4 separate regions of the Homo sapiens genome follow, and all the other regions are reported to be linked to region 1. Evidence: microRNA targets listed by miRTarBase, many of them from high-throughput screens and not tested one by one. Region 1 holds a microRNA gene; each other region holds the end of a gene's coding sequence.
The links. The annotated mature microRNA hsa-miR-187-5p reads GGCUACAACACAGGACCCGGGC and lies in region 1 at 3,383-3,404, opposite strand. An mRNA with a match to its seed (bases 2 to 7 or 8) in the 3' UTR can be bound and repressed. Matches are read on the target gene's strand: a 7mer-m8 pairs with bases 2 to 8, a 7mer-A1 pairs with bases 2 to 7 and ends in A, and an 8mer does both.

Region 1 (7,581 bases):
TATTTATGACAAACCCACAGCCAATATCATACTGAATGGACAAAAACTGGAGGCATTCCCTTTGAAAACTGGCACAAGACAGGGATGCCCTCTCTCACCACTCCTATTCAACATAGTGTTGGAAGTTCTGGCTGGGGCAATCAGGCAGGAGAAGGAAATAAAGGGTATTCAATTAGGAAAAGAGGAAGTCAAATTGTCCCTTTTTGCAGATGACATGATTGTATATCTAGAAAACCCCATCATCTCAGCCTAAAATCTCCTTAAGCTGACAGGCAACTTCAGCAAAGTCTCAGGATACAAAATCAATGTGCAAAAATCACAAGCATTCTTATACACCAATAACAGACAAACAGAGAGCCAAATCATGAGTGAACTCCCATTCACAATTGCTTCAAAGAGAATAAAATACCTAGGAATCCAACTTACAGGGGACGTGAAGGACCTCTTCAAGGAGAACTACAAACCACTGCTCAATGAAATAAAAGAGGATACAAAGAAATGGAAGAACATTCCATGCTCATGGATAGGAAGAAGCAATATCGTGAAAATGGCCATACTGCCCAAAGTAATTTAGAGATTCAATGCCATCCCTATCAAGCTACCAATGACTTTCTTCACAGAATTGGAAAAAACTACTTTAAAGTTCATATGGAACCAAAAAAGAGCCCGCATTGCCAAGTCAATCCTAAGCCAAAAGAACAAAGCTGGAGGCATCACGCTACCTGACTTCAAACTATACTACAAGTCTACAGTAACCAAAACAGCATGGTACTGGTATCAAAACAGAGATATAGACCAATGGAACAGAACAGAGCCCTCAGAAATAATGCCACATATCTACAACTATCTGATCTTTGACAAACCTGACAAAAACAAGAAACGGGGAAAGGATTCCCTATTTAACCAATGGTGCTGGGAAAACTGGCTAGCCATATGTAGAAAGCTGAAACTGGATCCCTTCCTTACACCTTACACAAAAATCAATTCAAGATGGATTAAAGACTTAAATGTTAGACCTAAAACCATAAAAACCCTAGAAAAAAACCTAGGCAATACCATTCAGGACATAGGCATGGGCAAGGACTTCATGTCTAAAACATCAAAAGCAATGGCAACAAAAGCCATAATTGACAAATGGGATCTAATTAAAGTAAAGAGCTTCTGCACAGCAAAAGAAACTACCATCAGAGTGAACAGGCAACCTACAGAATGGGAGAAAATTTTTGCAATCTACTCATCTGACAAAGGGCTAATATCCAGAATCTACAAAGAACTCAAACAAATTTACAAGAAAAAAACAAACAACCCCATCAAAAAGTGGGCAAAGGACATGAACAGACACTTCTCAAAAGAAGACATTTGTGCAGCCAAAAGACACATGAAAAAATGCTCATCATCACTGGCCATCAGAGAAATGCAAATCAAAACCACAATGAGATACCACCTCACGCCAGTTAGAATGGGGATCATTAAAAAGTCAGGAAACAACAGGTGCTGGAGAGGATGTGGAGAAATAGGAACACTTTTACACTATTGGTGGGACTGTAAACGAGCTTAACCATTGTGGAAGTCAGTGTGGGGATTCCTCAGGGGTCTAGACCTAGAAATACCATTTTACCCAGCCATCCCATTACTGGGTATATACCCAAAGGATTATAAATCATGCTGCTATAAAGACACATGCACACGTATGTTTATTGTGACACTATTGACAATAGCAAAGACTTGGAACCAACCCAAATGTCCAACAATGATAGACTGGATTAAGAAAATGTGGCATGTATACACCATGGAATACTATGCAGCCATAAAAAAGGATGAGTTCATCTCCTTTGTAGGGACATGGATGAAGCTGGAAACCATCATTCTCAGCAAATTATCACAAGGACAAAAAACCAAACACCGCATGCTCTCACTCATAGTTGGGAATTGAACAATGAGAACACATGGACACAGGGAGGGGAACATCACACACTGGGGCCTGTTGTGGGGTTGGGGGAGGGGGAGGGATAGCATTAGGAGATATACCTAATGTTAAATGAAGAGTTAATGGGTGCAGCACACCAACATGGCGCATGTATACATATGTAACAAACCTGCACATTGTGCACATGTACCCTGAACCTTAAAGTATAATAAGAAAAAAAAAGACAGTTTCCAGGTTTCCCACACAGAAGACAGCATGTCTGCCTTAACCTGATCTGTTCTGTAGTGGATCCTGCTGGGTTGTTCAGGCCATGATGGTGACACATGACCCAGAGCCTTCCCTGCATCTCGATCCGCTCAACTTCCCGGCTTTCCCCTCAGTTTTCACTTAAGTGCAGCCTAAAATGACCATAAAATGTCATTTTATGCTAGTTCCCTCCAGATCATTCAAGAGAAGGAAAAACACTGCACCAATTACATTTTAAAACTAGCTCATTTCTTGTAAAAGAGGAGGCACTGTGAACACCATGAGGCTGGTGAAAAGCAAGGGAATAAATGGATCCTTTCTATCTAGGACACAGGGTTGGTGTGGAAAGTAACATGCAGGTAGTCCTGGGGGCCAGGGGCTCATCTGAATCTGATTGAAGGGTGCTGCCCCAAGAGCAGGCTCTTTGGGGAAATTCGAGCCATAGTCCTCAGCTGTGAAGGCAGAGTCACTCAGCGGACCCTGCATCCAAGCTCCCACCCCAGTGCTGTGACAGCCTGCACAGGTGAAGGAACCTTGCTTTTCACACCTCTCACCTCCAGTTTTAGGGTCCTCTTCTGGGGCTTCTTCCCTATTGGGAGTTCATGATCTGATTTCATTTCCTTCTGGAGTCTCTGTCATGTTGGCAGTAATGTCTTCAATGAAACCAGCTAATGCCTACAGTGGTTTAATCTCCCACCTTGCAGAAAATATTCACATTTTAATAGACAACTCCTAAAAATGCAATGCTTTTCCGATCTGGAGGCGGTCCAGTGGTGGGCTTCTCATCAATGGGAGAGATGTTTGGGGAGAAACTGCCTTCCTTGCTACCCTCCTACCCCCATTGTGGAGTCTCAGTCACCTGGTCTGGGGACCGGAGGTGAGGAGCAGAAGGCATCCTCAAAGCCCAGACCCAAAGTAGGCTGTGTCACCCTGCAGCCAGCACCAGCTACCTGCACTGGGCCAGAGGTGAGCCAAGCTGTGTACGGAGAGACGAAACTAGGACAAAAAAGGGGGCTGAATGGGTGACACCTGGGGTGGTCCGGGTCGGCCTCTCTCCCAACACCCCACCCACCTGCCCACCAGAGCCTGGACTTTCCCATGGTCTCTGTGCAGTCCCCTGTGTCGAGTCCCTCAGGACAAGCGGAGCAGGCTCTGCTGCGGACCTGCGTCCCTCCGGCTGCAACACAAGACACGAGGGGTCAGAGCAGCGCCCGGGTCCTGTGTTGTAGCCCGAGGTCTCACACTGTGTCATGGTGAGCCCGACCTGCAGCACCTGCCTGGCCTCCTCTTCCAGGTGGGCTGCCCAGCTTCTGCTTGGGGAATCCGACTTGCTGTGCATCCCGATGAGGAAGCTGTAAAAGAACAGAGGTCAGCATCAGTAGAGGGTCCTGGGACTGGGGCTCAGCAGAGGCCTTGACCTGAGGAGTCTTGGCTGTGATGGGCGAGGAGTCCTGCCCGGGGCAGCATAGATGACCTGTGCTCCAGGTGAGCAGCGAGCCTGATGGAAATGCTCAGAGAGGTGAGGGGCTTTGCACGCAAATACTTCACTGTCCACATACCTTTTCCTTTAAACAATGAATTATGGCTGTTTACAAGCCACTAATTACAGTTTATCATAACAATACTTCCTAGGAAATGGGTTCCTACTCTAATACTATGATGAGAATTTTGTAAACGCCAAGCTAGTACAATGAATTGCCCTGAGTTATAATAAATATCTGCACTTTGGGAGTAAGGCAGTAAACACAACATTACTGCTATCCATTTCCTATAGGCCTCTGAAGGATTTATTACTTATTTATGGTTTCTTTTTATTCAAAAACTCCTACATATCATTTTTTTGCAGATTATTTTGGATGAGTCATTTCTGGTTTTTTTTACAAAATAAAACGCGGTAGGCCCAGAACCCAAAAAGCGTCCCAACTTCAGTCCCTCCAAAGGTGACTTGTTGAGATTCCTCCCCGAGGCGCGCAATCCTTGGCTGAGCTCCACAGAATTCCTGGGCTGTGGGAATGAGGAGTAAGCGGCGGTGTTGCTCTCCTTATTTCTAGCTTCAGTAAAGTGGACCCATCAGTTTTGTTCAACGAATCTTTTGGGAAGGCTGTAGACTTTGAGCCCAGATGGGACATTAAACAGAAGTGTAGAAATTAGGTGTCACATCGTTTTCTACCAACAAAAGAAGATAAAAGTAGAAGGAAGAGGGATAACAATATCATGCCCACATTTTGTACAGGAACTTAAAATTGAACAATTTAGAGGGAGGGAAATCCCTTCTCTTCCTAAATTGTCTAAAAGACTGAGGGGCTCTTCCCAGCTGACCAGGGTACTCCCCACTATATCTGAGTCTGTGCAGACCTATACAGGCACATGTTCTCCAAATAAGTTATTTTCCCCTCCAAACTCCTTTCTCAGGCTGGGCACTCATGATCTAAGACTGCATCAGGCCCTGAGAAGCAACAGAGGACTCATACACTTTTTTTGTGTGTGGTTTTTTTTATTATACTTTAAGTTTTAGGGTACATGTGCACAATGTGCAGGTTTGTTACATATGTATACATGCGCCATGTTGGTGTGCTGCACCCATTAACTCGTCATTTACATTAGGTATATCTCCTAAAGCTATCCCTCCCCTCCTCCCCCCATCCCACAACAGGCCCCAGTGTGTGATGTTCCCCTTCCTGTGTCCAAGTGTTCTCATTGTTCAATTCCCACCTATGAGTGAGAACATGTGGTGTTTGGTTTTTCGTCCTTGTGATAGTTTGCTGAGAATGATGGTTTCCAGCTTCATCCATGTCCCTACAAAGGAGATGAACTCATCCTTTTTTATGGCTGCATAGTATTCCATGGTGTATACATGCCACATTTTCTTAATCCAGTCTATCATTGTTGGACATTTGGGTTGGTTCCAAGTCTTTGCTATTGTGAATAGTGCTGCAATAAACATACGTGTGCATGTGTCTTTATAGCAGCATGATTTATAATCCTTTGGGTATATACCCAGTAATGGGATGGCTGGGTCAAACGGTATTTCTAGTTCTAGATCCCTGAGGAATCGCCACACTGACTTCCACAATGGTTGAACTAGTTTACAGTCCCACCAACAGTGTCAAAGTGTTCCTATTTCTCCACATCCTCTCCAGCACCTGTTGTTTCCTGACTTTTTAATGATCCCCATTCTAACTGGTGTGAGATGGTATCTCACTGTGGTTTTGATTTGCATTTCTCTGATGGCCAGTGATGATGAGCATTTTTTCATGTGTCTTTTGGCTGCATAAATGTCTAATTTTGAGAAGTGTCTGTTCATGTCCTTTGCCCACTTTGTGATGGGGTTGTTTGTTTTTTTCGTGTAAATTTGTTTGAGTTCTTTGTAGATTCTGGATATTAGCCCTTTGTCAGATGAGTAGATTGCAAAAATTTTCTCCCATTCTGTAGGTTGCCTGTTCACTCTGTTGGTAGTTTCTTTTGCTGTGGACTCGTACACTTTTTAACACATCATTGTCTCAGGGCCCAACACACGGCCTCTGAAAAATGAGAGCCTGTCACAGAGCCACCAGGCAGTGGCCCGCTACTGGCTATTGGGAGAAGCTACCCAGTCCCCAGAACCCAGCCCCCTGCTTCACAAGTCCAGACACCTGATGCTATCCAAGTGCCCAAGTTTGGGGGGCTGGCTCCTGCTGACAAAACTCTGAAGAAACTGAATTCTGCACATGCTTACCTTGCCTTTGAAAGGCAGCAGAAGTGGAGTTGCATTATTGGGTTCTGTCTGAAGAAAGTGAAGGTATCCCAGTACTCATCTGCAACTTCTGACTACAAGCATGTGCAGCAGGCACCCTGGAACTGTATTTTCAGAAACTAAAGAACACAGAGGCAGCTAGGACAGTGGGGAGAAAGCCCGTGCTGATGCAAGGACAGGGAGACCTGAGCTCTGGCTCTGGCCTCGCAGCAGGGAGCAAGTCATGATGAGTAAATCCCAGAAGCTGACCCAGAGTGGCTGCCTGCATGACTTGCTTACTTGCATGATGCTTAGACAGCTGGCTGATTCTCAGATTCCCCAGGAACCAAAATGCAGGCCAGGCGGTAACAGAGCCTCAGCCTGTGGGAGCCCCCTGCACCTGCCTCACAGCACATCCTCCCAGGTGTTGCAGGCCAGGCCTTCTTTCCCAAGTCAGAAGCCAGGCCCATACGGGCAGCTCAGCTGGAACAACGGAGGTGCAGGTCCAAGGCCCAAATAGTGGAGAGTAGGTGGTGTTGCAGGAAGATGAAGACAAAACAAGCCTCCTGTCCCCCCTTACTGCCCGGGATCTTCTACCTCAACCCTACCCAACATGGTCCTGAGGGGAACCAAATCACTTCCTCTATGCCCATCCTGAGATGGGGCTATCTGACTTGTTTGTGCCAACAAGAGGTCAGAGTGAACAGAATGGGAACCAGAAAGAAAAGCTTAGAGGAAAGCTTCAAGCTCATGAAGCCCACCTGCGGGACAGGGGAACAAAGAGATCAGCAGGCAGCGGGGTGCAGTAGGCTGGGGCAGAGGGGAAAGAACGCTGTGGTTATTAAGTCTGTAGCAGGTGGAGGGCCAGGGGTCTTCTCATGAATAAGTTCTCGAATTTTTTTTTTCCTTATTTTTTATTTCTTTTGAGACAGAGTCTCACTCTGCCACCCAGGCTGGCGTGCAGTGGCACAATCTTGGCTCACTGCAACCTCCACTTCCTGAGTTCAAGAGATTCTCCTGCCTCAGCCTCCCGAGTAGCTGGGATTACAGGCACATACCACCATGCCTGGCTAATTTTTGTATTTTTAGTACAGACAGGGTTTCACCATGTTGGCCAGGCTGGTCTCAAACTCCTGACCACAACTGATCCACCCACCTCTGCCTCCCAAAGTGCTGAGATTACAGGCGTGAGCCACTGCGCCCAGCCTCAGAATTATTATTTAAGGAAATTACTCACTCTTGTATTCATTTAACAAACATAACAGGCATTGCGCTAAGCACTGGACATAAGGTAGTGAATGCCTCACCCATTTGGGCCACGGTTGGATTCTGTCACCTGCAGCCAAATGCTATCCTATTTCACATCGAAAGGGACAGAAGAGAGGTTAAGGGTGTGGGCTGTACGAGGATCTAAGCTTCAGAAGCCTGGGATGGGGAAGGATTTGGGGAAACCAGGGGAGAATTTACTAATTGAATGGCCAGTGGCCTTGGTGAAGTGCAGCTGGATCTCAGGGAAGAAATGAGCCCACATAGAGTGGCCTGACAGCATCCACCCAGGCAGGGTAGTAGGGGCTTCTGGGCAGACTCAGGACAGACTGAGGCCTGCAGCCAGAAGGCCGTGGGCAGAACTCCCACCCTGGGCTACACATCCAGGGTGCAGGCCCTTGGGTGTCTCCAGGAGGGAAAGAGCTTACTA
Region 2 (7,581 bases), not on the chromosome of region 1:
GGATCCCGGCGCAGATCCCGGCCTGGGTCCAGGCCTCAGACACGGAGAAGCTGCTCTGGTGACCTAGACGGGTCGGGGGATCCTGGCGGCTTAGGGGACTGGTTGCTGGAGGTCGAGTTTGGTCAGGGTCCCACAGGCTGCTCTCATGTGGAGAGCTTTAAAGTAGGTAAGAACTGGCAGAAGAACCTGAGGTTGATCTACCAGCGTTTCGTTTGGAGTGGGACCCCAGAGACTAGGAAACGTAAAGCAAAGTCATGCATCTGTCACGTATGTAGTACCCATATGAACAGACTCCACTCTTGTCTCTCCTGTGTCTTTTTTGGCTGCTTCACTGAGAAACATATTCACAAACATGCAGAAACAAAGCAGCACCATTTAGCTGTAGACCTTTATCATGGGGTCATATATTGCTTCATGTGTAAGGATTATGTATATGACAAAGACATAGAACAGATTGCCAAAGAAACAAAAGAAAAAATTTTGAGATTATTAACTTCCACCTCAACAGATGTTTCTCATCAACAGTTTATGACATCAGGGTTTGAAGACAAGCAATCAACCTGTGAGACAAAGGAACAGGAGCCAAAATTGGTGAAACCCAAGAAAAAGAGAAGAAAAAAGTCAGTCTATACTGTAGGCCTGAGAGGGCTAATCAATCTTGGGAACACTTGTTTTATGAATTGTATTGTCCAGGCACTTACCCATATTCCTCTACTGAAAGATTTCTTCCTCTCTGACAAGCACAAATGTATAATGACAAGCCCCAGCTTGTGTCTGGTCTGTGAAATGTCTTCGCTTTTTCATGCTATGTACTCTGGGAGCCGAACTCCTCACATTCCCTATAAGTTACTGCATCTGATATGGATCCATGCAGAACATTTAGCAGGGTACAGGCAGCAGGATGCCCATGAGTTCCTTATTGCAATATTAGACGTGCTACATAGACACAGCAAAGATGATAGTGGTGGGCAGGAGGCCAATAACCCCAACTGCTGTAACTGCATCATAGACCAAATCTTTACAGGTGGCCTGCAATCAGATGTCACATGTCAAGCCTGCCATAGTGTTTCTACCACCATAGACCCATGCTGGGACATCAGTTTGGACTTGCCTGGCTCTTGTGCCACATTCGATTCCCAGAACCCAGAGAGGGCTGACAGCACAGTGAGCAGGGATGACCACATACCAGGAATCCCCTCACTTACAGACTGTCTACAGTGGTTTACAAGGCCAGAGCACCTAGGAAGCAGTGCCAAAATCAAATGCAATAGTTGCCAAAGCTACCAGGAGTCTACTAAACAGCTCACAATGAAAAAATTACCCATTGTGGCTTGTTTTCATCTCAAGCGGTTTGAGCATGTAGGCAAACAGAGGCGAAAGATTAATACCTTTATCTCCTTTCCCTTGGAGCTGGACATGACTCCGTTTTTGGCCTCTACTAAAGAGAGCAGAATGAAAGAAGGCCAGCCACCAACAGATTGTGTGCCCAATGAGAATAAGTATTCCTTGTTTGCAGTGATTAATCACCATGGAACTTTGGAAAGTGGCCACTATACCAGCTTCATCCGGCAACAAAAGGACCAGTGGTTCAGCTGTGATGATGCCATCATCACCAAGGCTACCATTGAGGACTTACTCTACAGTGAAGGGTATTTACTGTTCTATCACAAACAGGGTCTAGAGAAAGACTAGTCTTACCAGACCACTTACTGAAAAAAAAGTAAATGATTAGGCAAGGATTTTGAAGTGACACACAGACCTACTTGGAATGGACAATGACAGTAACACCTATGTGACAGCTAGTATCTTGATATAAAGAACCTATTTTAGCATGGCCCATGGGTCTGTCGGAAGAAAAAAATGAATACTAACCAGTGACCATTCAACCTTAAGAAATGGGGAGAGGGAGAAGAGGTTGAAAATGGTCACATAAAGCATAATGAAATGAAAAGAATGCTTTAGGTGGGGACAACGGGAGTAGAAGTGTTCTGATGCTACTCTATGTCATTTGTTTTTACAGAAATATCTTGTGAAGTCAGGGAGTATTCCTTTATCAGCAAAAACTTCACAATTGGTGTTCCAGCTGTGGCTGACCAGCTAAATAGTTTGAAAGAAAAATAATATTTTAAAATAAAGTTTAAAGAGCTTTAAAAGAAAAACATTTAAAAAGGAAAAAATCATTTTTAAGATTTTAAAAGAAAAAAACTTTTAAATGTTGAAAAAAATTTAAGTTGTTATTTTTAAAAGAAATATTTTAAAAGTTAAAAATAATTTTTTAATTTAAAGAAGTTTCAGAATTTTAAAAATTAAAAGCAAAGAAAATTAAATTCTTAAAGTTTAAAAATGTAAAATAAATTAAGGAACAAGGTTAAAAATGAAAGTTTACCAAAAAAAGGAAGAAAATACTGTTAAAAATTAAAGTTAGAAACAAAGGAACATCTTAAAAGTTTCAAATGAAGGAAAATAATATAAATAGATATTTCAAAATTAAAGCATAAAATATACGTATTTAAAAAGTGTTAACAAAATTACTACTATAATGATTAAGAAATAAATTTTCAAAAATACAGAATGGAATGCAATTCAGATTTTAGAGAAAAGTTTTAAAAGAGGCAAGTTTAGAATAATTCAAGACAAAAAGACAAAATGTGTTTAAAGACAAAAATTGAAAAAATACAGGAAGAAAATAGAGACTTGTAAAATAAAAAGAACCTTAGATAAGTTCAAGAGATTTAAATGAAAACTTTAAATATTTAAATAAAGATTTAAAAATTTAAGCTTTTAAAAAGAAAAACAGTTACATAAAAATTGACCAGTGAAAAAATGTGAAAGATTCAAGTAGAAAAAATTATTAAAATTAAAAGTTTAAGAAGTTCTATTTTTTTATTTAAGCATATTAAAATACAGACGGGTATGAAAGAAATAAATGGAGGAGACAGGAATAACGACAGCGGTGTGTGAGTATATATATATATATATATTTTTTTTTTTGAGCTTTATGTTGATATATCAATATACGTTGGAAAAGGAAATAGACATTTTAATCATTATCTTACCATCCAATTGTGAAATGGCTGCAAGGCCTAAACACTAACTAACCCACCTTCCCCTCTTGAGATTCCATGCCCCATCTCATATCCTGAAGGAAGTCAAATTACTTCCTAGGCAGAATCAATTCATCTGAGAAAAATGAAAACATTAGGGACTTTCCCATTTAGAACTGCATTATTCATACAAATTCTTAGCTTCTGAAAAGGGGCTCTTGATAATTTGGTGGCTTAGAGAAGTTAGATCACAGCTGTGAAGCTCTGGCTTTGGTATTTGAGCCCCATGGCCTGATTGAGGAAGTGGCAGGGACCCATATCTGAGGCCTTCCCACCTTCCTTTTTCCCTCTTCCCCCTCCAAGGAGAAACAAGACCTTTAATTTCCACAGTAGAGCAATGGGTTTGTGCTTGCAGTCCTTCTGCTCATTCTTTATTCCCTCTTTATTTCCTTTTTTTGTCACTCATGCCTAGTTCCCTGAACCCCTTACTTACCTGGCCTTACCTACATCTCTGAGCCCCAGCCTGCAGGGCTCCTTCTTTGACTATTCACCTGGTGGCTTTTACTCCTCCTTCAAGACCCAACTCACAGATGACTTCTCTGGAGTCTTCCCTGAATGCTCTAGGCAGGTATAAATGAGAAAATTGTTCCTCTCTTCCCCTCTTTATTCCTCTCACTGTGCCTCCAAAGTACTTTGTCCATACCTCGGTGATAGTACTTATTCTACTGTGATTTTATTGTAGCTTTGTGATTGTCTGCCCCTCTGCACTGAGCATCTAAGAACAGGGGGCCAAGCCTTATTCATTTCTGTGTTAATAAATATTTGTTAAATGTGAAGATGAGTTCAGTTATTTGCTCTATTCACCTTGTCAGTAATGTTTTCTCACCCCTTCATCCATCAGGCTGCCATTAAATGCCCAGTGCTATACTACAGTGTGATCAGTATTGTATTTTACCCCAAAGCAGGATATGAAAAGCACTCAGCTGCAGGGGCTGGCTTAAGAAAGGTGCTCAGTGAGAAATAGCCAGGTGTGTGGAGGGAGGCCCAGGTACAATGCAGAGAAAAGAGCACAGGCCTGGAAGTTGGCAGTCATGGAAGACTGGGTGGGGATGAGGAGCAGCAGCTGAAGGTGAGGCTGAGCTCTCTGGCATGTGTGTGGCCACACTGCCCCTCATCACAGTGTTCCTCAGCAGCAGTGTCTCACAACTGTGTACCACACCTCTCTAGGGTTTACCACATTAGTTTACCTTCCCCGTGAGACAGTAGTACCTCATCACTGCACAGTGTTCTTCATCACACTGCACATCATCACTCTACTACAAGGGAGTGATGTCTGGTAACAGTGTTTATTGAAGAGCTGTAGTTTATTTTTCTGCTCGGCACCCTCATTTTCCCGCCATTCTTTGTGGACCTATTGGGGCTACTGATCACTTTTCCCTGCCTCTGTCACCCCTCCCCAAGTGGGCACATCACTCAGGCTGGGCCAGATTAGAGTTCTCAATTCCCCTGTCCCTCTACCAGTACCCCTCCCACAGGAGCATTTCTTCTGAGGGTGGGCATAGGGCCCAAGTAGGGCCAATCAGAGTCTGTTGCTAAATTGAAGGTATGTGGACACTGGAAGAAAAAACGTGTCTCCCTCCTGATCCCACCCCCAAGCTGTAGTCACTATGCTATGATAACCTGATTCTGGGACTTTGAGAGGTCAATATCTATAACACAAAGAGAAAACCAGAAAGAACTGGAGATTGGGAGAAAGAGCCCAGGGAACATCGTTTGAACCTTGTGGATCCAGCTGTGCCAGAAGCGCCAAAGTTCCCAGCTATCTGAGCCAATAGAGTCCTTTGTTTTGCTTAAGCTAGTTGTCAGTTGGGATCCTGTCATTTGCAGCCAAGGGTCTTGAACATACTAACCAAGCTATATGATTAGTGGAGCATCAGTTCCTAAGACCACAAAGCATGAGAGAGAAAAGGGAAGGAGGAGTGACCTTGGATGAACTTCATCATATAAAATTAAGAAACTATAGTGGGTCCCTGTACATCTTTAAGAAGCAAGTTTCAGCTCAGCCACTGACCTGTGCTAGACTTCAAACCTTACTCACAGTAATGAAATGCTTATTCCAAATAAAAGGGAAAAAAAGCAATAATGTTATATGAGTACTGATTTAAATCAGGCACTGTGTTAACTGCTTTACCTTTATTATCTCACTTGGTCCTGGGTCCTCATAGTTCTGGGAGACAATCATTACTGAACATATTTCGCAAACTGGGAAAGTGAAAATCAGAATAGAAAAGTGATTTGCTTAAGTTCACTCTACTGTTCTAATCAGTGAAGCCAGTATTCAAATGCAGGTCCCCAAAGCCCATGCATGTCCCATCATAATCCAGTATAGATAATTCAAATATATATATTTTTGCTTTTCCTGATTTTGCTATGGAAGACAGGATAAACCAGCGTGGTACAGAAGGCAGCTTCTGACAAATCTGGATGCAGGTAACCTGCAAGGAGAGAGTAACCTATCTACTACACAAAGTTGCCCATGCTACAGGGGTATTTGTTTCTGTGGAAATGGCTGATTCAGATAGATCAGGCTAAATGACTTTCCTAAGGATAATCATGATGGATGAAGCCAAAATATTACCCCCAATATAAGACATATAGCCTCACTCAATGCTATATGCCAGGCTGAGCCCCAAGACGTGACTGTAAGATCTCATGTTTTTGCGGTCTGTAAAACCATCAGCTCTTTAGCCATACAAGACTTCTTTTCTAACTTCAACACCATAGCCATCACTTTGAGTGTCACTTTTATCACCCCTCTCCCTCAGATCTTCCCAAAATGCCCACAACACCAGCTCCTCCAACGAGCCCGGGGAGGGACTTACCTATTGGGACCTTACCCAAGTGGTCCAATACTGATTTGTAATGTACAGCTTCTGTTGTTTCTGAATTACTTTCATTTCCTTTACCTTGATTCTCTTCCAAACACACAGTAGTGGCTACTCCAGGCTAGGGCCGGACCTATGTGTTTATAAATCCCACAGGCCTACCACAGTTTATGGCAGGTACTTAACATGCTAGCTGAATGAATATATGAATGAATAAATGAAGACATTCCGTTCTACACTCTAAGCCTCAGCTTCAGCAGGTGACTTCATGTCCTATTTTTCTGAAATCAAAAATCTCATAAGAATGCCTGATTTACCCACATCTACACACTTAAGTTTCCATCCATCCTCCATGCCTTCACTGTCATTTCAAAGGAAAAGGAATACTGCTTCTTTTCTGAAGCTTCACCCACTAGCCTCCTTCTTCTCGTCCATTCCTAACAGTCAGAGGGCCTTACTCCTACACACTTCCCTCTATTCTAGTAACAGCCATGTTTTTGCTAGACAGATAAAATCCAGCAACTAGACATCCTAGATTTTCTATGGTAGTTCCTCAAAAATGTTGTCCCATCATCTCTGTAAGAGATAAAAAAAGTATTCCAAATCCCAATACTTCTCCTGAGTGTATATTATCCCCAGAAGAAACCCAAGAGTCTGTTTTAAAATCCAGATTTGGGGATCATGTTTAAAAGAAAAATACATTACCTTTGCTCCCCTTCCTTTTACTGCCAAACTCTTTCACATGTGTTTTTTTCATACATTATTTTCACTTACCTCCTGCTCCATCTTTAGTTCCCTGCATTCTGGTTTCTGCTTGCACCACTCTGTTGAAACTACTTTTGCTTAAGTTAAAATGACTTATTTTTTCAAAATTCCTTATTTTACTACTTTATTCCATTTAGTAAAGAGATATATGATATTTGCAGATAACGGAACAACAATCACAGAATATTTGAAGTTAAAGCTTTCCCAAAAAATCCAGATCATAATGTTGCCATGTTGGCTACCGTTTAGGAGCAGTTTCCCCTTCCCTTATACCAGGAGGGTATGCCAAATCTGAGAAAGGGACTGCAGCTAGAGGTGGAGCAAGTGGAGTTGAGGAAGGGATTGCACAGAAAATCAAATTTTTAAAAACTGTATCATGTTTTAAATGTATCAGAGAAGTTGGTATCTAAGGACAGGTGTAGAAAATCCTTTTTGTATGCAGATGAGGCCTTATCCAGAATCTAACCATGCCCTAAATTGATCTGTTTTTAAAAGAGTCCCCTTAAAGACACACCTGTATTCTATATGCAAACTTACAATTTGAACCCTCTTTCTCACCAACCCTTTAATAGAGAATTAAACTGACTGGCCTATGATTTCTACTTATTTATGATGAGGTACCTGTGGTGAGGCCTAACTAGGAAGAAGATGACTGAGGCACCAGAAAGACTTGAGCTGAAATCACATCCCAGATTTGCCATTTATTAACTGGCAACACTGGGCCAGTAACAGAGTCTTGTGCACAGCCCTCCAAGGATTGTAGAGGAGACTAAAACTAACAGTCTTTGTAAAGCATTTGGTGGATAGCAAAATGCTTGCTATCTACATATGGTTGAAGCTAAAAAGAAAAAATAGTCATATCTCTTGTCCCACGTGTCAGTGTCCAA
Region 3 (7,581 bases), not on the chromosome of region 1:
GGGTGGCTCACGCCTATAATCCCAGCACTTTAGGAGGCCAAGGCGGGAGGATCACCTAAGACCAAGAGTTCGAATCTAGCCTGGGCAACATAGTGAAACCCCATCCCTATAAAAAATAAAAAATTAGCCATGTGTAATGGTATGTACCTCTAGTCCTAGCTGCTCAGGAGGCTGAAGTGGGAGGATCACTTGAGCCTAGGAGGTTGAGGCTGTAGTAAGCTGACTATGCCATGGCACTCCAGCCTGGGCAACAAAGCAAGACCCTGTCTCAAAAACTCTTCTCTACTAGAAGAGGCCAAATAGTCAGATGCAAATTTCTCCAAACCTATCCTGACCTTGAGTATGTAAAGGGGTACTATACTTCATTCCTGACATATTTTGGTTTCCATGTTGGCATTCAGCTCCGGGTTTTCTATTTGGATGGTGAAAATTTGGACCCTGCCATTCACAGTCCCTTCCTAAGTGTAGGGAAAGGCTGGTTTTTGCTGTTCATTGTTATTCTGAAAGCTCTGGTTTGGGGTCCATGTTCATGCTGGCTCTCAGTTTGATCAGATGCAATGTTCTTGAGAGGAGGGGACCTAATTGTTACCAGAGAGGAGAAGAAACTCTGTGAATTAAGTACTGAATTATGGCTGGGCGCAGTGGCTCACACCTGTAATCGCAGCCCTTTGGGAGGCTAAGACAGGAGAATCACTTGAGGCCAGGAGTTCAAGACCAGCCTGGGCAACAAAGACCCTATTACAATAATGATAAAATTTAAAGAAGAAAATGTACTCAATTAAAAGGAAACATGATTTCTACCTGGAAAAAACCCAAAAGCAGTTTTATGGGGTTTATTTGGTAAAGATGATGTCTCGCTATGTGGTCCAGGCTGGCCTCGAACTCTTGGGCTCAAGCGAACCTTGCATCTCGGCATCTGGAGTAGGTGGGACTACAGGAATATGCCACTGCACCCAGCTGACGGTTCTTTGGGGGCAAGTAAGTTCACTTGCTCTGGGGTGGGATCAGAGATAACTGTGCTGTTCAGCATTTCATTTTGGAGTTATTTCTGTAGATCAGAAACCTTGTGGTCATGTGGCATCATTTTCAAGGGCACATGGTACAGGTGGCCAGTGCTAAACTCCTATGCGTTCACCATTTTTTTGTTTGAGACAGAGTCTCCCTCTGTCATCCAGGCTAGAGTGCAATGGTGCAATCTCAGCTTATTGCAACCTCTGCCTCCCAGGCCCAAACAATCCTTCTGCCTCAACCTCCCAAGTAGCGGGGACTATAGGTGTGGGCCACTACGCCTGGCTAAATTTTTGTATTTTTTGTAGAGACGGGGTTTTGCCATGTTGCCCAGGCTGGTCTCAAACTCCTCAGCTCAAGTTATCTGCCTGCCTTGGCCTCTCAAAGTGCTGGGATTACAGGCATGAGCCACTGCGCCCAGCCCTAGAATACAAATCTTTCATCACATTGTGACTGGGTTTTAGTAGCCTGGAGGCCCTTCACTCTGTTAGTCTGAACCTCAGCTCTGGGGGAGTGTCAAGCTTAGTGAAGGTGGGAGAGAAGGCAAAGCATGGAACCATGAGGTAGTCTCTCTTTATTCTTCTTACCGGCAAACCCAAGCCATGAAAACAGCCCAGCTGAAGGCTGCTGAACCACCCTTCTTATCTCCCTCTCTCTCTCTCTCTCCTTTCCAGTGATTCTGCCCCACATTGGCAGTGCCACCCACAGAACCCGCAACACCATGTCCTTGTTGGCAGCTAACAACTTGCTGGCTGGCCTGAGAGGGGAGCCGATGCCTAGTGAACTCAAGCTGTAGCCAAACAGTAGAGATGGAGGGCCGGGAAGCAAACCGTGCCCTGGTATTGTCAGACACACCCAGGCTTGATTTGGATCCACAGGCAGAGCCAAGGGAAGGTGTGATTCTCTGAGGAAAGAGTGATTCTGATATATGTACTTGTCACATTGGTGTTGGACACATTTGCGCCAAAAGTATGGTAATTCTATTATTAAATAATTCTCTGAGAGACCGTCTTGGCCTGTAAATGGGGAAGCTAACAAGTGGATATGGCTGGGCATGGTGACGCACCCCTATAGTCCCAGCAACTCAGGAGGCTGAGCGGGAAGGATCCTTTGAGGCCAGTTCAAGGCTGCAGTGTGCTATAACCACTCTTTTTAAATCGCCACTACACTTAACCTGGGCAATGTAGCAAGATACCGTTTCCTGCAGTGTGCTATGATCACTCTTTAAATCACCACTACACTTAACCTGGGCAATGTAGCAAGACACCGTTTCAAAAAAAACTTTAAAAATACAAAGAGCATGTTTCAAAGTCACAGCATCCAATGATCTGCCTGGCTCTGCTTCCCACCCCAGCCCTCAGCCCTGGGCATTTTCCTTATTGGAACGTGTCCAAACCACCTTACCCCTCATCTTCTCTGCCCAGATTCCTTCACTTGTCCCTCACCAAGGACGGGACAAACAGAACCCAGTTGTGACCATGGCACTTGAATCTTGATACCTAGACCATCAGGAAAATTAAGGAGCACTTCCAGAAAAGGAGTTAACTGGAAGAAATGAGAACTAGGTAAGGACGTAACTCTTATTTTGGTCAGAACGATTAGAGGTAGGTGGGTTTAATTTTAAAATTAGTTTCAGCACCTACACATATTGTTCCCTTTGCCCATTCTGTCCCCCCAGCCCCTCCCTGCCCCCAGGTGGATTTTTTTTTTTTTTAATCACCACCTTACCCACTTCTCTCCAAGGTCAGGCCACAGCACTGCCATTGCCAATGCCTTGCTCTGTGCTCAAGGAATCAGCTTCCAGCTCTTCCCAGCAGCCAAGCCAAACTGGCAGATGGAGTTTCCAACTTGGGAGGCAGGTCCAGGGAGCAGCACAAGATTACGCAGGCCCTCAGAGAGCAACTGGGTAGACTGAAAAGCAAAATCTCATGCATGTGCGTAGCTCAAAGACAGAAAAGGCGGGGGAAGGCAGAAGGGAATGATTTGAGAGGAACGACCAATTAACTGTTAATAGAAGGTTTGGTTTAAAACAAAGTACTAGTCAAAGAAGGGCTGGCAAAGAGATATTACCCTCTTTGGTTTCAACCTTAATAACGTAAAGAAAAAGAACACATATTTAGAGGCATGAATATGACAAATTTTTTATTTCAAAAATCTCAAGTTGTAACCAGCATAGCACCACTGACATGGATGCCTTGATAGAACTCCTTGATAGAACTTTATGATCTGTTCACCAGAAAAGATTCTACATGATCACGCCAGACTATAATTAAGGCTAACCAATCAAAATTCAGGTACCCAAAACCAGTTATAATCCAGGTAGAAACTACAGATCATAGGAACCCTGGGACTGGTTTTCCAGGGAACCCTGGAATTATTTTTTAAGTGCTACAGCATGTACAAGGACACTGGCCCACAAGCTTGCTTCTCACACGTAGAAACTGACAGACTAAGAGGTAGATGAGAGATTCCAGGTTCCATCTAGCAGTGGAGAGGCAGGGCTCCAGCATGTATCAGAGATAAGCCCCAAAAGCAAAGTCCACTTATGCTTCAGCAGAGGTAAGCGGGCAGGCTCCTGGCACCACCTCCTCCAAATGGAAGGGAAGGAGGGCTGCACCGCTCTGCCTGTGTCACTGGCTCCTCTCCCTGGGTCCAGGCAGGGCCTCTCATTTTCTCCAGGCTAACCCACTGTGTCCCAAGGTTAATCTCACAAGACACTGGTCCCTACATCATGTAAAGGGTGGATGGGGAGCCTCCTAACACCATGTCAACATGACTGCTAACAAGGAGCCACACACACAACTGAATTTCACAGGACCTCATATCCTCCAATGGGCTCTTTCCCACATCTACTCGAAAGGAATCGTGGGTTTCCCTTTGGGCTTTTCTTCCTGGGAATCAGTCCATGGGAGATGCCAAGCGCCCCTGGAACATGAAATTATCCACACATGTGTAACTGCACACTCTAGATTAACAGGAGAGAAAACACGCTCATTTTTGTTTCCAGCTACACATACTTAGCTTTCTAAACACAAAAACTGAATAATTTATCTGATTTATGAATGATGGTTTGGTATGTCTAAGAAAGCTATATAAAACATAAAATGAACTCATGTTCATGCATGAATTAAACTGACTTCATGAGTTCTAGGGAGACGCATTAACCTGTGCTGTTCCCCTGGACGCACACTTGGCCTCATACAGGTGCCACTAACAGCCCTGATGGCAGTGTCAGAGGACAGCAAGGTGAGGCTGGGGAAGTGAGGCTGTAGGGCCCAGAGAGGCCCTAGTGCCTCCAACAGTCTCAGATGCTACTTGATTACTTCTATGCTATGGGCTGCTAACTCTTACATAGCCTAGAAAATATTTACCCATGAACACTACCATGTTTGGATTTCAAACAACTTTAAACATTTGGTATCAGATTGGGGGAGCAACAAATAATAAAATTTAGGGTCTGTACTGTTAAAAGTATAGTATATAACAGTAATAAAACCTGTGTGGGGCATTTTTGGTTAATCTGTCGTCGAAAACGGTAATCTAAACCTGGGAGAGTTGCTATATGGGGAGGGGAGAGTGAAGAAATGGAGAACAGGCTTGTCCTCGGGTAGGATGTGTCAGCCTAGACTGGCCCTCAACATCTGGACGGAGCAACAGGTAAATGTGCCATGGAAGACCCCACAAAACATGACTCCACATCAGCAGAACAAAGACAAACACAAGTCTTTTCTGACTTCCTAACATGGAACTGTAACATCTGTAATACAAGTTGGTTAAAATACTGCTCAAACAGCACATAGGGAAACAATACCTTGTCACTCTCTACAAGTACACACTCCATTTACAATTTGGTTTTTAAACCAGAAAAAACTGTTAAAACATCTATCCAACAGTGATGTATTCAAAAGTATATACATCTAATAGTCCAAGAGAATGCTCACTCTGGACCCAGTGTCAGCACCAAAGTGCAGTGTTTATGACTGCAAATCAGGTAAAAATAAAAAATACAGTACTTTGAGGCCTAGGACTAGCTCATGATACACTTTAAAGCATTTGTGGCAGACAGGTGTGTCCTCAAAGGCCTTCCTTTAAGACAGGCACCAAATCACCACTGGTTACACATAAGTGCATTTTGCATCACTATACAGGGATATAATACTCCCATCAGAAGGTATAGGAAATTTAAATGCTACACAGTTTTACAAAAATTGCTAAAAAATTTTTTTTGCACTTCAATTTTTAAATTTTTAAATGTGCCACTTTTAATATCAATTACAAACTACTTTCTGACTGCATTACTCAACCCCAAGGAAGCACCTGGTTTCAGGGATTGCATCCCTTTCCCAAGACGTGCACTTCACTCAGAAATGCAGCAGCACAAATACTACATGTTAGTTCTCCGGTTATTAGTTGCTAAACTGTTTAAGAGCCACTGGGCAGCTGGAAGCCTCGAACCCAAAGGCATTAACTGCTTACCAAAAGAAATTCAGTCTGACAACTGGCCTCAGCGTTGTCTTGTAAGGACAAACAGCTAGAGCAAAGTGCTGGGAAGATTGCTGCTCTGCCAGCGCAGGCAGGTAGTCTTTGAGTGCTTATACAGGTGGCTGGACTGACTAAACCTCTTGCCACACTTCAGGCAGGCGTAAGGCTTTTCACCTGTGTGAACACGGATGTGCTTCTTGCAATCTGTCAAAGTCAGAAAAGTTTTGCAGCAGATTTTGCAGGCATACTTGCGAGCTCCCTCTACAACCAAAACATTGTGCTCTGATAAGGCCTTCTTGCACTTTGACAGAACATCTGCAGATGCCCTGGTCAACTGTGGAGGGCCAGGCTGGGAAGGATGGCCATTTTCAAATGAGGACGTAGCTCCATTCATCATTAGCTGAGAACTGGTAGAGTTTTCTGGGATCTGTGAGCTCCTGACGGAAGTTACAACTGGCATTTTGGGAGCTATGCGGCGGTAGTAAGGAAAGTTACTGGCTCCTCCCCTTGGGGAACCTATCATTACCCTGGAGAAGGAGGAGTGGAGGCCCAAACCAGACCTGGAAAAGTCCATCCCAAACTGTTCTCCTCCTTGGTAGCCTGAAGTCTGCACACACGGCAGGCCCATCACCTCCTGCATAGGCCTGACGAAGTGGGAGTCTGCAGGTTCACTAAATGGGTTCTCTACATGGGAGCCAGGGGCAGAGGAGGGCCCACCTGCAGGCCCAGCCTCTGGACTCAACAAATAGGGGGCCTCACTCTCCAGCCTGCAGTCACTAGTGGTGTTTGGAATATTATCATCATTGTTCTGATTTGCAGTAAAGTTATTTCCTCTGCTCTTGTTAAGAAAATTCGAAATACTAAAAGTGGACTTATGCTCTAGGTTATTTGTGACTTCCAAAATATGGATATCACCTACCCTGTCTGTGCTAGACTGGGGATCTGAAAAACTCCGATCACTGCTTTCAGGGCTGAGGTCTATCTTCTCGGCACTGACCACAACTCCTTCCACTTCCACAGACTCGCTGCCTTCTGCTTGTGAGGTCACATCGCTCACTTCATCCTGAGGCTCAGGTGAGCTCAGGGGCTCAGATTTAACCACCACTCTCATGTGCTCCTTCTCACCAAGGCCAACCTCAGGGTTTTCACACTGAAAACTACTTTTCTCAGGTGCAGCTTCCTGATCAAAACTAGTCTCAACCTGAGTTGCACGAGAGGCCATGGACAACTGTGCCATGTTGCCAGCACTGTTATCAGACTGGCTGGGCACCTGGGCATCTTCTTGAGTGCCAAAAGACTGATCAAACATGATCGCACTATCTTCCTGGTTATCAGTCATTCCATCAGCTTTAGGATTATCCACAATTTTCAGAGAATCTGGTGAAAAGAACTCCTCCCGAGAATGAACCCCTGAAGGCCCATTCTCCGGTGTAACATCTGAAATGGCAGACTCATCTATGGAGGGTCGGAGGCGCTGCCTGGCCCGCTCCTCTGCAGACTGCTTGCGCTTATGAAGGCGTCTCATGGGGAAGGGCGTGCGCTGATCCAGGTTACTGCGCATGGAAGAGCTCATGGGGGCTGGCTGCTCCTCGCCATTCTGGCTGGAATTGAGGGCTGAGCTCACGATGCTTAGTCCCAGCTGCTGTAGCATAAAGGAGCGCTGCATGCGGGCGCTCTGCTCCTGAACGCGCTCACTGGGGGGAGACATGGGCAGCGTCCTTGTCGTTAAGTAATGTTTACATGCCTTAACAACAGAGTTCAAATGCAGGTGAGAGGCTGCCAATAAGACATCCATTACATTGCTCTCCCCCAGCATGAGGGTGGAGGTATACATCATGTCAATCAGTGCAGCAAAGGCCTCTGCTGTCACCACCTCGCTATCCAGCTGGATCATGTTCATGGTCTGATCTCCTTCTGCCACTGAGAACAGGGCTCGGAAATGCGTGCTGCATGCTGCCAGCACGGAGCGGTGGGCTTTAAAGTGTCTATTCCCCACTACAATGACACAATCACAGAGCTGGCCATGAAGTCTCTGGTAGTTCAGCTGCTGGAAGATTTGTTCAAAGTGACCAGGAAAATCCATGATCCTAC
Region 4 (7,581 bases), not on the chromosome of region 1:
CTTCCCTCCACTATTGTCCTATGACCCTGCCAAATCCCCCTCTGCGAGAAACACCCAAGAATGATCAATAAAAAAAAATAAATTAAAAAAAAAAAAAGACAAAATGCACTATGTTGTCATCCATAAAAATAATAAACATAATGGCAAAACAGAAAAGGCCTAAGTAAAAAAGAATTTAAGACCTTCTATGCTATAATTGCAACTACAGGAAATGTGTACATACAAGGTTAAAAACAGAATTGAGGTCAATCGTGGTGGCTCATGCCTGTAATCCCAGCACTTTGGGAGGCGTATCGCTTGAGCCCAGAAGTCCGAGACCAGCCTGGCCAACATGGAGAAACCCCGACTCTACTTGAAATACAAAAAAATTAGCCGGGCACAGTGGCCCATGCCTGTAATCCCAGCTACTCGGGAGGCTGGGGCATGAGAAACCAAGGGAGGCGGAAGTTGCAGTGAGCTGAGACCATACCACTGCAATCCACCCTGGGTGACAAAGAGAGGCTCTGTCTCCAAAAAAAAAAAAAAATAGAAGATACAAACATGGTTGTTCTAAACTCATTGAAATATTAGCAATGTCTGTTCTTTCTACCAAATCCCTCTTCTGTCATCTCACAATCTATCATTTGCATTTAAATAAATTTCAAGTGAAAGTATATCTTGACTACTTCTCTGACTACAGAGAAGTAGAAGAGTACTAGAAGACTGAAGAGTGCTATTTCAAACAGCCAAATAAAAATGTTAATAACATAGTGGGAATATAAAATGGTGCAGCCATTTTTGTTTTGTGGAAAACAATATGGTGGTCTCTCAAAAAATTAAATACAGAACTACCATCCAACCCAGTAATTCCACTCTTGGGTATATGCTTATGAACTAAAAGCAGGGAACAGATATTTATACACCCACGCTCATAGCATTATCCACAATAGCTAAAAGGTGGAAGCAACTCAAGTGTCCATCAATGGATGAATGAACAAACAAAATGTGACATATACATACAATGAAATATTATCCAATCTTGAAGAAAATTCATGGCTGGGCGCAGTGGCTCACGCCTGTAATCCCAGCATTTTGGGAGGTGGAGGTGGGAGAACTGCTTGAGCCCGGGAGTTCAAGACCAGCCTGTCCAACATACCAAGACCCCATGTCAATGGAAAAAAAGAAGAAGAAAGTTCTGGCATATGTAACAACGTGGATGAACCTTGAGGACATTATGCTCAGTAAATAAGCCAGTCACGAAAGGACAGCTACTATACAATTTCACCCATATGGGGTACCCAGAATCGTTTTCATATAGAAAGTGGAGTGCAGGTTGCCAGGGGAAGAGGGGAATGAGGAGTTATTGCTTAATGGGTACAGAAGATTAAACGTTATGGAAATGCATGGTGGTGATGGTTGCATAACAATATGAATGTACTTACTGCCACTGAACTACAAGCTTATGAATGGTTAAAATGATAGCTTTTATGCTATATGTATTTACCACAATAACAAAAATTTCAGTTTTATCTGAGATTCAATAGCTTAGGGAGAAAAAAACAGGAATTAACTGTTAAAAAAATGTAGCTAACATAAATCATCTGTAAACGTCATTTACACAGACGGTCAACATGCCTAATTAAACCATTTTTACCAATTTCGGAACAACAGTCTTCTTCAAGTGATCTTCCATGACTGTCTAAATCTGTTTTCTTTCTTTCTTGAATTCAGCAATTCTAAGTAGTCTACTGAGAACCCTCTAACTAGCAATCACTGATAAGAATACCAGTCAGGAGAAAAATCATTAAAAGCTCTAAGGCAAGAATAGAACTTCCTTCAGTTCAAGGACCTTGACTTCAAAGTCCAAGTCAAGTCAGCTTAACCTATTAAAAGGCTACTTGTCAAGTTATGACTCCCTGATCTATGAAAAGCAAGATCCTAAAAGTAGGCAAAGTGGTTTCACCCCCCAAGTGATGTCAAAGTCCATTCTTTGACATATATTTTAACTCACAGGCCTCAAATCCTCATTTGAAAATGAATTCCAAAAGCTGGTTTTCCTAAGGAGAGTGATGAGAATTGGCCTGCCACATGGCAGAGTTTGATTTTCCCCTTTCTCATATTTTCAAGAGGTATTTCAATGACTACAATTGCTCAGTTATGACATTTAAGAAAAACATCCACATGACAAGCCCCGTTCCCTTCTCTCCCTCTCCTCTTCTCGTGGAGTGGAGGTGTTGGGGAAAGGGTGGATTGCACTCTTAAATTTATTTAGAACACATTCACTAACACATATTGTAATTTCATTTGGCACAGAAAGCCTGGTCTAAAAATTATTTTAGTCCAAAACGTACCAAATACAGAACAAAACTTTACACCAATCCCTTCACTTATCCAGAACCCTGGAAAAGCTGGTTTTTAACTTTATTGTCATCTCTAATAAAACAATTCACACATGAATGATCATGTCTGTACAACCACAGTGACTAAAAGTGTTTTTCTCCTATGAAATACTATGGAAAAATTTGATTCTAACTTTTTTAGTACCAGCTAAAAATTGAAACAGTTTGACGTATTTAGTGTATTTGCAAAATAATGAATAAACTTTAACAGAGTTAAACAAATATTTAGAAAAATTGTAGGAGGAGGTTTTGGCTCAAGGAAACGAAGAACTAAAAGCCACACTTCTGGTTTCCTTTCCTTCTATGAAAGGTTCCATTCAGCAGCATGTAACTTAGGTTGAACATGCGAAACTGGTTTTCATACCAAACACATTGTTGCTTAGATAACAGAGTATCTGAGATGAATTTAAGCTACAACAAGCTCAGATTTTAGAAATTATAGCTGAACTCTTTCTTCCTTTGTATTAGTATTATATTCTCTATATAAAATTTAACCCTTAACATCAAGGCTGACCGGGCAAATGTGCCAAAAAACATTCCTATAAATGGAATGTGCAAATAGAGAAGAGATTTTTTTAAGCAGCACAGTTCCTTTTTAAAGAAATGCTAGGTTTGGGAAGAAAGGACATCTAGGGTCTACCCTGATCTGAAACTCATCCTCCTCTGACACTACGTGTTTATGGCAGCATTTCTGTGCCCTTGGGCAGTGGCCCTCTCTAATCCTGGGATCAGGATGACCTTTGCAGGATCATAGCAGGGCCATCTGGGATTCAGGACTGACTTATTCAGAGGGTTTTCCACTAAATATGCACCCCGACACAAAGATCCCAGGAAGCATCACAGAAGGTGTTAGGTAATCTATCACCTTCAGATCTGCCAGAGAAAACAGAAAGCCCAGACTCATTTGACAAGGACAACCTTGGTGCTTGAAAATGTGTATTTCTTGAGTGGCTAACTGTCATTACCCACTCTTATAATCCCATAGTTTAGTAGTCCTAAATATTCATACTTCCCAGACCCTGGCTTTCTTTTTCATTAACTTATTTTACTAAAATCTTAACATCTTAGATATCTTTACATTTTGTTTTATTTAATATTTAGATATACATGTTTTTCTTAGCCATAATGATTTAAAATCCTAATTTAATGAACTCAATTTCATGAAGCCTTGAGCACGATTAAATGCATTTTGTCAGCACCAGGCTACTTTCAAAAATGTGTTTAGACTTCTCACCCTGACAGCTGTTCTCTTTGCACTTTGCTTTTTAAGTAACACACTTGAGGAAGGCTGACATCAGTCAATCTATATTTGAACAGAAGAAGAGACCTTCCTTTGTTAGAATTTCCAGGATGCATCATTTAACTTCAGCATGAAGCATACTGTGTTGACCCAAATAAGGGCACTGCAATTAGAGCACAAACCAAGGTAAGGGCTGATTCTCTATGGAATAGCCTTTCCACATATAATCATTTGTACCAAGGAAAGTATTACATTAGGAGATTCCAGGGCCTTATAATAATTTCAAAATGTAACAAAACAAACATGGAAAATGCCAAATGCCTTAAAGGAAGACAGAATTTTAAAACTTCCCACCTCGATGGCAGGTTAATAGGTGCAGCAAACCCCCATGGCACATGTGTACCTGTGTAACAACAACCTGCACATTCTGCATTTGTATCACAGAACTTAAAGTATAATAATAAAAAATAATAATAAAATCTCCCTTCATATGTCACTTATAATCCCATCTTATGGTATAAGTGGGGACACTGTTAGGGCTACCCCAGAGCTCATAGGACATTGTGAAAATGGCACAATTCTGTTTCCTTGGAAAATTAGCTAGTGTTGCAAAGTCACGGAAGTGACAAACCTACAAAATGCTCTAAAACTCTACAGATCAACCATTTACCCTCTCTCGGTCTAAAAACCTAGTAAGACAATAAAATACCACATGCTACCTAGAATGTAAAACAAGAAATTAATAATTTTTCGTAATGGGAAAGAACGTATATATTTTTCCCAAATAAATATTAATGGCTTCTCTTTTTAGAAAAACTTTTTCTCACCATGGAGATAATATTAGCCACTGAAACATTTCAAGAAAGGATTTGAGGATGACTACCAATAGACATTAATGCTGGAAATTTATTTCCACAGCTTGATTATACACTAAAATAGCAATACCCAGCTCTAAGTCCAACAGAGAGAAGCTAAAGCAGAAAGAAAAGAATTCCACCTCACTTAATTCATCGATCAATTCTTCCATTACTTTCTTTTAATTCAAACATGCATACACAAAGAAAGGTTTCTGTCCTTTAATTTTTTAACAGAATATACAGAGCCACACAATACGATTTCAATTTCAAATTATGGGAGATCATATTCAAATATGCTTAGGTTTGACAAGTTGCTGTTACAATACTGAGAAATTTCATGAAAACGGTATTTAACAATTTTTAAGATAATCAAATATCTTTTTGCTACGTGGGCCAACGCATTAATACTAACTTGTTTAAAAATGCAGTCTTTTAGACTTCAAATTATTATAAAACAATATCAAGATCATATAGATATACTTCCTGATTACTCAAAACTCGTTCCATTCTGATGGAGGCTGAAGGTAAATGTTATTATACATTAGAACATTTCATGAAACCACTTCTCCTTTGCACTTACCTGTAAAAGTCAAAAATTAAACCACAATTTCCTAAGACATAACTATTTCTAGAATACATTGGTGTAATCATAAAAGACTACAAGTAAATTATCATTTTTATACTAACACTTTTTACCACAACAATCTTTCCTAAAAAGACCAAAAAAAATTGGGAATTTGGATTTCCCTTAACATAACAGGATCTCATACTTTCTGATTTTAATAAATTTCCACTCTTTTTCCAGTAGGAACTATCTACACAGCACAGTGCTACATATAATTATACCAGTGAGATGTACGTTCAGATTCACCATATAACCAACACAGTGGTACCATACAAAGTTTTTCTGCAGGTAAAAATGCTAAGAAAGGCCACAGTGGACAGTGCCCGACAATGAATACAGTAAATTCCAGGTGCCACCGAGCTTCAGAGACCACAAGTTTCAAATATTTTTCAGCAACGGAAAGAAAAAAACATGTAGAGAAACATAGAGTAAAAATATATAATTCCACTATCAATAAGGTACTTTTCCAGATAGTGTTTCCTTCCTTAAACTGGCAAATGGAGCTTAACAGAAAATTACAGAAAGTGAACAAGATCATAATACGAAAGGAAATCTTCCTTGTTTTCTCATCAAAGGAATGCACTAGGATTCGCGCGGGGGTCTTTCTGGTTCCTGTATCTGTAGGTCAGCCAAACACCCAGGATCTGGAATGGGGAAAAAAAAATAAAGTAAAGAAAAAGAAAGTAACATTTATGTATATTTATTCAGTTGATCAATAAAATAACTTTGGACCCTCTCAATCGCTTTGCATCTTTTGTTCAACGGGGAGAGATTTTTTTTCTTTTTGAAATGAAGTAAACCAAATGACGGGCGCTGAGAAAAAATTAAAACGAACACTGTGGTAAACTGAATGACTGGCCCTGAAGGATGTCCATGTCCTAACCCCTACGACCTGCAAATATGTTACCTTACACAGTAACAGGGACTTTGCGGGTGTGGTTAAGGGTCTCAAGATAAAGAGATTATTACCCAGGTGGGCTCAATGATATAATCACAGGGGGACACATATGACGGAGGCAGGAAGGACAGAGTCAGAAACATGGAGAGAAGACACCGTGATGGCAGAAGTAAAGGGAAATAGAAAGAGAAGCTGCAACTCTCCTAGCTTTGAAGATGTAAAAGGAGGGCTGGTGAGCCTGGCCTCCAGAAGGTACCTTTATTTTAAACTTTTGATCTCCAAAACTGTAAGACAATAAGTTTGTGTTGTGTTAAGCAACTATGTGTGTGGTAACCTGTTACAGCAGAAATATGGAAAACTAATACAAAGTCAAAGTAGTCTAAATAGCTAAAATAGCATATATTTTGATAATTCAGGAATAAACTAAGTTCAGTAAAATTTAAGTAACAGCAAAAAATCTTAAAATGAATAAATTTTCCAACACAGAAATTTAAAATGTTATAATTCCTACCTCTCTTGGTAGGAAGAGATGAAGCTGTTACTGTGCCATTTCCCGCACCAAGTTCGCTAAATTGTTAGCCAGTATAGTTTTTTAAATTAAGAAATGTGTGCTCTGTTTCTGTTTCAAAGTTGGTTTATTTTAAATAAATGAAAATTGTAACTCTTTAGGCTAAAAAAGATACAAAATTTTAATAGAATAAAATGAGTTTTAAACTGTATCTCCCACTTTATACGTGTGCCAACTTTTAACCTAAATTTTGTTTATGTGACTTTGTAGCCACCATTAGCCCTTTTAAACTACTTCTAGAGAGTTAGGTAAGTCCCAGATTCTCTCCACTGACCACAATAAGAATCCACAAATTACTGTAAGATTCATAACTGGCAGTGTTTATAGCTGGTGGACTGAGGTCTGCAGGTTGAATCAAGGAAAGGTAAGCCTGATTTGAAGATGTGGAAAGTCATCTGTTTTGGAATCCATCTAATGGGGAAAAAGAAATGTATTTAACAAACATAACAAAGAGTTCTTTATGAAAGGTACCATTCTACAAACTACAAATTCATATAATCCCCCCAATAGCTTTCACAAAATAGATACTATCAATATCGTCATTTTACCAGTGAGGAAACTGAGGCAACAAGAGGTTAAACAAAATAATCACACAGGTCCTCAGTGGTAGAGCCCATGTTCAAACCTGGAGCCCATAAACTACCCCACTTTTGTGGTTTTATTCGGTAATCTGACATGTCACTGGCTGTTCTCAGCCACACTAGCTGTTACAACACGGAAATACTTACATATCTGTAGTTAAACAACTATTTCTTTGAGTCCCCCCGCCCCACCTCAACCTGCCCAAATATCACTTGCCAAAGCTCCCCACCTTGGAAATTTTCAGCACAGGGAGCTTCTGGTCAGAATTTTTGAGGATGTTAACATTTTGACTATCACCCCTGGATATATGCTGAGAGGGTAAATCACAGTCCTTGGGGGAAGAAAGCAATCAAACAAACTAAATACTCATAATCCGGAGCCACATTTTACCAGAATTGTATTCCTCCAACTTGGCTATAAGCGCCAAAAGGGG

Region 2: miRTarBase lists USP51 as a target of hsa-miR-187-5p. Seed matches in the 3' UTR shown: 7mer-m8 at 3,781-3,787.
Region 3: the mRNA of ZBTB5 is a reported target of hsa-miR-187-5p. Seed matches in the 3' UTR shown: 7mer-A1 at 5,196-5,202 and 7mer-A1 at 3,395-3,401.
Region 4: miRTarBase lists TSPAN13 as a target of hsa-miR-187-5p. Seed matches in the 3' UTR shown: 7mer-A1 at 5,304-5,310.

What each region holds. Positions count from the first base shown.
Region 1 is chr18:35,901,489-35,909,069 of GRCh38, forward strand. It overlaps MIR187 (microRNA 187), which reads right to left and starts at 3,438; the gene lies at 3,330-3,438.
Region 2 is chrX:55,480,915-55,488,495 of GRCh38, reverse strand. It overlaps USP51 (ubiquitin specific peptidase 51), which reads left to right. Exons shown (of 3, transcript NM_201286.4): 3 at 1-3,880. The coding sequence ends at 1,692. Among named protein-coding and RNA genes, the nearest start is that of USP51, 5.1 kb to the left of the region's middle. RefSeq lists an enhancer at 1-92.
Region 3 is chr9:37,434,979-37,442,559 of GRCh38, forward strand. ZBTB5 (zinc finger and BTB domain containing 5) reads right to left here. Exons shown (of 2, transcript NM_014872.3): 2 at 3,124-7,577. The coding sequence starts at 7,573. The coding sequence ends at 5,540. It overlaps GRHPR (glyoxylate and hydroxypyruvate reductase), which reads left to right. Exons shown (of 9, transcript NM_012203.2): 9 at 1,683-2,012. The coding sequence ends at 1,804. Among named protein-coding and RNA genes, the nearest start is that of GRHPR, 16 kb to the left of the region's middle. RefSeq lists an enhancer at 1-62.
Region 4 is chr7:16,781,580-16,789,160 of GRCh38, reverse strand. It overlaps TSPAN13 (tetraspanin 13), which reads right to left. Exons shown (of 6, transcript NM_014399.4): 6 at 4,625-5,744. The coding sequence ends at 5,670. It overlaps LOC124901593 (a long non-coding RNA gene), which reads right to left. Exons shown (of 2, transcript XR_007060228.1): 1 at 7,378-7,581; 2 at 6,615-6,977. Among named protein-coding and RNA genes, the nearest start is that of AGR2, 20 kb to the left of the region's middle.